Regions from separate parts of the Homo sapiens genome. Here region 2 is linked to region 1. Evidence: fine-mapped expression QTL. A gene starts in region 1. The other region holds a variant in brackets. All regions are shown on one strand. Distances are between the middles of the regions. Region 1 holds the start of RGS17 (regulator of G protein signaling 17). Region 2 overlaps RGS17 (regulator of G protein signaling 17).

Region 1 (2,911 bases):
CCCACGCTGGAGAGAATCTCGCCGTAAAACAATTTAAGAAAAGAAAGAAATAACTCTGAAGAGTGTGAAGTTCTCCAGACAAATCTTATAGTGAATCTTTTGAAAGAAGCATTTATGGAAAGGTCAGGGGAGGTCAGGAGAGTTATGCCAGGAGCCAGGGTCAATCGTCCCCGGGCGACAGGGGTTCTCCCACGTGAACCGACGTCCCGGGCTCCGGGCGAGGCGCAGGGCTCAGGGCGCAGGGCGGGTCCCGTACGCAGGGCGGGCGCGCGGGCATCTTTGTGGCCAGGCGACCCCGGCTCGCTCTCCCGGAGCCCAGGGACTCCCGAGGCTGGCGCGGGCTGCCCGCGACAAGGTGCCAGCAGCCTCGGGCTCGCGAGGAGCAGCTCCCACCCGCGGCTTCCGAGTCCAGCTCTGTCCCTCCGCCATCCCCTAGTCCTCCGGCATTTATTCAGGGAGACAGGGAGGCAGAGAGAAGAGGAGAAAGCGGCCGTGTCTGCACCCAGCCTCTGCCGCAGCACTCGATGAGGGACAGCAGGGAGGCTGGCGGGGAGGCAGAGATTAAACTATGATTCCATCGATCACGGAAAGACCACCATCACCTACAGCAAAGGAGGCTCCGATGCGCCCACCCGGGCAGCGACTCGCGGTTGGTGGGCGTTCCTCGTCCTCGCCCCCTCGGTGGCTGTGGAATCCACCCCGCGCCGCACACGCCAGGACTCCCTTTCCTTTGACTAAGGGGAGGGGAAGGAACAAAAGAGACCCCCCACCCCCTATACATACATACACATACACACACACACACACACACACACACCCCTCCGGTATTTTACTGCTGGTCAAAGGATTCATTTTCGCAACCTCTTCTTCGAACACCTTCCCCACCTGAGCAGTGCATTTTCCCAAAGGTAAAGAGAGATAAGGGAGGAAACACAGCACCCAAGGTGATCAGTCGATTGGACACTGTTGATGGCACATTCTCCTCGTTCCCAACCAACCGCACAAAACCCGCAACACCTCGCGTCCCCGCGGGGTCTCCCGCGCCCCTGGCCCGGCCCTCCCGGCCGCCCCCAGCAGGCGCCCCGCTCTCCGCGGGAACTCTGGGACCTGGCCGAGCGTTCCCCGGCGGGCAGGACACTCGCCCGGTTCCCTGCAGCAGCTGAGGGCGGCGAGCGGACCGCGTCCAGGCAGCGACGCGGGATTCAACTTCCCGGACCCGCGGCGCGGCCCCCGCTCCCGCTCAGGGCGCCGCGGCCACAGCTGAGACCCCAGCGCCGCGCAGCCGCCCCCGCCGGGGCATGGGCGGTCGCGCTCTCCGCCCCCTCCTTCCTTCACCTCCCCCCTACCTTGAAAAAAATCCATCCATTGGTGCAAAGCAGACATTTTGATGTCATTTACTTAGCACCGCTTGTTTTGGAGGCAGCGTCTTACCCGGTCGCCTGGAGGTGTGGGCAGCGCGCCGATGGGTCCGGGGGAGCGGGGCTGGGCGGCTCGGTCCTCTAGCGGAGCCGGTTTGCTGCCATCCGCCCAACTTCAGCACCCAGCGGGCGAGGAGAGAGGGAGAGCGGCGAGGATGCAGAGGAGGGGGAGGGGGAGGAGGGAGCGGTGGGCGGGGAGGGAGCGAGAGCCGCTCGGCAGCGCGCATGCGCCTCGCGGGCCGGCGCAGCCCCTCGCCCGGCGCGGCCGGAGGGGCAGCTTCCCAGCCCCTGCGCGCGGCCGCGAGAGTCCCGGCCCCGCCCCCTCCCCGGGCGGCCCCCGGCCCCGCCCGACCTCGCGCGCTCGCCTGGGCGCGGCGCCCACCGTGCGGAGGGGCTCGGCCGGGACTCTCGGCTTCGGTGACGCCCGTCCGGAGCTTCGCGGGAGGCCCGGAGTCCCGAGAGCTTCCCTGGGTGACAGCGGCTCTCCGCCCGGGCCCCTGCAACTCCACTCGCCCGTAGCCCGCGCGCTGCTGTCCTGGGCTGCGCGGGAGCCTTGCACCCAGGAGCCGGCCTGCCAGGCACAGCAGCCTGCCTGCTCCGGGTCCCGGAGGAAGCATTCCCTGCGTGGGGGTTCAAGGAAGTGTGAAGTTAAGCAAGTTTTGCTTCCCGAAGGACTTTATGAAGCGTCCTTTACTTTATTGACTTCCTCGCCCAGAAAGAGGACCTTTTCTCCTAAGAATCAGTGCAGGTGCTCTCTGGCCTAGCCCATGCCAGCTGCCTCAGGCGCCCGGACCACTCGCTGGAGCAGAGTTTTGAGTGAGAAAAGCCGATGACAAGGCAAGAGTGGAGAATTATTAACGGAGGTGCTGATGCTTGGGGCCTAGAGCATCCTTAGGGGACAGCTTGGTAGTTACCAGGTCTGATAATCGTTCTGTGCCCAAGTGGAGCCCAGCTTGGTAGGGAAGGAGCTTGGGATACTTAATGCAACCCGAGCGCTAGATTGCATCTCCAATGATTAGACTAAAGTGTTTGTGCGGAGGAAGTGGAGAAGCAGTGTCTTGCTCTTCAGATACCACATCTGTGGGAAGAGGAGGGAGTTCCTGCAGGAGTGAATGGGCTTTTTTTTCTTACACCTAATTAAAACAGATTACTTGTAAATCTGTGTGAGTTCCCCTTCCTTGTGTGTTCATGTAAGCAAGCGTTGTGTTATTTCAGCCTACTGAACTCTCCTGTGCCTCCATCCTCATAGACTCACGGGTACTTGGGTTAAATATGTCTCAGGGCCTCCTCCAGGGCCTCCCATGGCTTTGAGTACTAGTGCTCTTCAAAGTGTCTTCATTTTTGTTGGATTTCACAGAAGTATTTGTCTTTGTCTTCCAGGCTGCTATAACAAAATACCATAGACTGGATGGCTTATAAACAACAGAAACTGATTTCTTACAGTTCTGGAGACTGGGAAGTCCAAGATCAAGATGTAGGCAGATACCTTATTT
Region 2 (2,911 bases), 29 kb before region 1:
AAGACTATGAATACTCTATACAGTTGACCCTTGAACAACACGGATTTGAACTGCGGAGTCCACTTATACACAGTTTTATTTTTTTCAACCAAAAGTGACCTGCAAGTACAGTATTCACAGGATGCAAAACTGCATAGTATAAGAAGCACTGACTTTTCCCATATGTGGGTTTTGCAGGGCCAACTGGGCACTTGAGTGTACATGGATGTGGTTATCCTCGGGTGGTCATGGAACCAATCCGCCATGGAGGCCAAGGGAAGACTGCATCTATTAGTGATCATATTGTATGCTACCGATTTAAAAGTGATGGCAGATGTCATTTCTATATACGGAAGAATTCCTTCATAAAATGGAACTGGAGACTGGTAGGGTTGGCCTTAGCAGTTAACAGTATATGCTACTGTTGGTGACTACATATGTTATGTGGTGATATGGTTTGGCTCTGCGTCCCCACCCAAGTCTCATCTTGAACAGTAATCCCCACATGTTGAGGGAGGGGTCTGGTGGGAGGTGACTGAATCATGGGGGCAGACTTCCTCCTTGCTGTTCTTGTGATAGTGAGTGAGTTCTCGTAAGATCTGGTTGTTTGAAAGTATGTGGTACTTCCCCCTTCACTCTCTCTCTCTCTCTCCTGCCACCAAAAGAAGACATGCCTTGTTTCCCCGTCACCTTCTGCCATGATTATAAGTTTTCCTGAGACCCCCAAGTCATGCTTCCTGTTAAGTCTGCAGAACTGTGAGTCAACTAAACATTTCCTTGATAAATTACCTAATCTCAGGTAGTTCTTTATAGCAGTGTGAAAATGGACTAATACAGGTGGTTATGAATTGGTACCTACCAACAAGGTATCAAATCCATTGTTTGGCATTTCTGCCATCAATGCAACGATCTGCCTTTGTACTTGAAGGCATTTTGCTTCTGCACAGTCTTCTATTAAGGAAAATGATAAGCCTTATCACTTAACTCAGTGCTAACAGTTGGACCCCAGCTGATGCTCTGAGAGAGTCTGATGGGACACCAGCAAGGAGGACAGGAAATGGAACATGACAGAGACACACTTTGTCTCTAGTTTTTCTCTAGGGGTAAAACAGGCAAAATTAACACATCTTACCTGTCAAGTAAAATTACAAGAATAACATGTATGTATGTAAGTGAACCTGTGTGAAAATTCAGACAGACTAGTTCTAGAGTTGTCACATTCTTACCAATGTGATTTGGACTATGCAGGAACAAACCAATCAATTATACTGGAACTCTATATATTGATACATATCTTTACTAGTAAAACAAACAGGGTCTGATATGGTTTGGCTCTGTGTCCCACTCAAATCTCATCTCGTGTTGAGGGAGGGACCTGGTGAGAGGTGATTGGATCATGGGGGCAGCTTCCCCCATGCCGTTCTCATGATAGTGAGTGAGTAACGCTGTCAATGTCACAGAGATGGTTCCTTAGAGTTTCTCCAGGCCCCTCTCTACATGTGGAGGAATCTAATCACAGTTGTCAACTGAGGCCTGGCCTATGTGGGCAGATCCTCGAATGTTTTTTCTTTTCTGAATATTACTTTCTTTCAAATGCTAATAAGGGTTAGGCCCAAAGCATTTTGTTGT[G/C]CCCTTCAAATAAAGAAAAACTACAATGCAAACATTAGGCATTCCATGTTCATTGTGTATGTGTCTTGTTTTATGCATTCTATCTTAAAATATTTATTTTTAGTCACTGCCCTGATACTCAGTGGCTGGCAGTTGGTAGACTCTCAGCCATAACTGCTGAATGAATAAAATGAATTCTACAACAAGCTTTTGCTATTGAAAAGCATTATGGTGGTATATTACATCCATCTCAGAATTTTTATAGCTCAGTGAATAAAGAATATGGCTAATGGGTGTAGAATTTCTTACAATAACCCAGACAGCACTCTTCAGTTATTCTTTTCCAATTTCGTTAGCTGAAAACCAGGGACAATACAATAAATCACAAGATATACAGGAGGATCTAACATTTGAGTAATGACCTGCTGCTGGACTGTAACACAGCATTAGGAGTTTCAGTTTAATCAAACAGTGGTTAAGGAATAATGGGCTGAGATGTTTCATATCTTTATGATGACATCTCTAGAAGTAACTTTTTATTCCCTTTGTGTTCATAATTTATTTAATATATGCCATAATTATTACCACTGATACGATAGTTATATTTCCGTGACCTTCAGCAGAAGGCGGGGTGGAGGATGCTGTTGTGAGCTGTTGGCTTCTGTCACCGGCTCCTCCAGGACAGCAGAGCCACACTTCCTCTCAAGTGCTGCTACCACCCTTTTCTCCTAGCAACCATATTATGTTAAAGTGCAGTTGCTGAGGTTGCCAGGATATTCGTCTATTCTTGTCCTCCATGATCAAACCAAAGGCAAGAGAAAGTGTAAACCAAACTGAGGCAAACACACAGGTAGAGAGACCCCGAAAAACCAAATGCCAGCCTATTCTTGAGAAGAAATAAATTGAGCAAATTATTCTGTTGTTAATGCTTTAAAAATGTATCTTATCTTTTCTTTTCTTTTGGGTAAAATCAGGAAACAAATTTTAAAGACAATCCACAAAAGAATGGCTATTAAACGTTTTAAGACAAAACCACATTATCATTAGTCAGTAGAAGCTACTTTTTCCCAATAGAGGAAGAGAGGTAAACATCTTAAAATTGTCAGAGTGACCTGGAAGATTCTAAACCATAATTACCATCCAGCTTCACATATAAAAGCTTTGAAGAGGATACCACATCTTATTGAACCAAAGATATCATTGATTGTAAAATGTGTACTGATTTCTGGAATGTGAAAAATATGTATCTTAGAATTATTGAAACATGACACATTACTCATTTGATATTTCAATCAGTTGTGAGATAAAATATCCTATGTATTTA

The links. PIP is the estimated chance that this variant, and not a neighbour inherited with it, causes the effect.
Region 2: its variant is the best candidate, but not a certain one, in a credible set for the expression of RGS17 in blood mononuclear cells (TOPMed, PIP 0.67).

The regions. Positions count from the first base shown.
Region 1 is chr6:153,129,693-153,132,603 of GRCh38, forward strand. RGS17 (regulator of G protein signaling 17) reads right to left here and starts at 1,590. Exons shown (of 5, transcript NM_012419.5): 1 at 1,432-1,590. RefSeq lists a silencer at 1,472-1,521.
Region 2 is chr6:153,101,178-153,104,088 of GRCh38, forward strand. The region is part of intron 1 of RGS17 (regulator of G protein signaling 17); the gene reads right to left. Among named protein-coding and RNA genes, the nearest start is that of RGS17, 29 kb to the right of the region's middle. The variant G/C (reference allele first, on the strand shown) is at 1,609.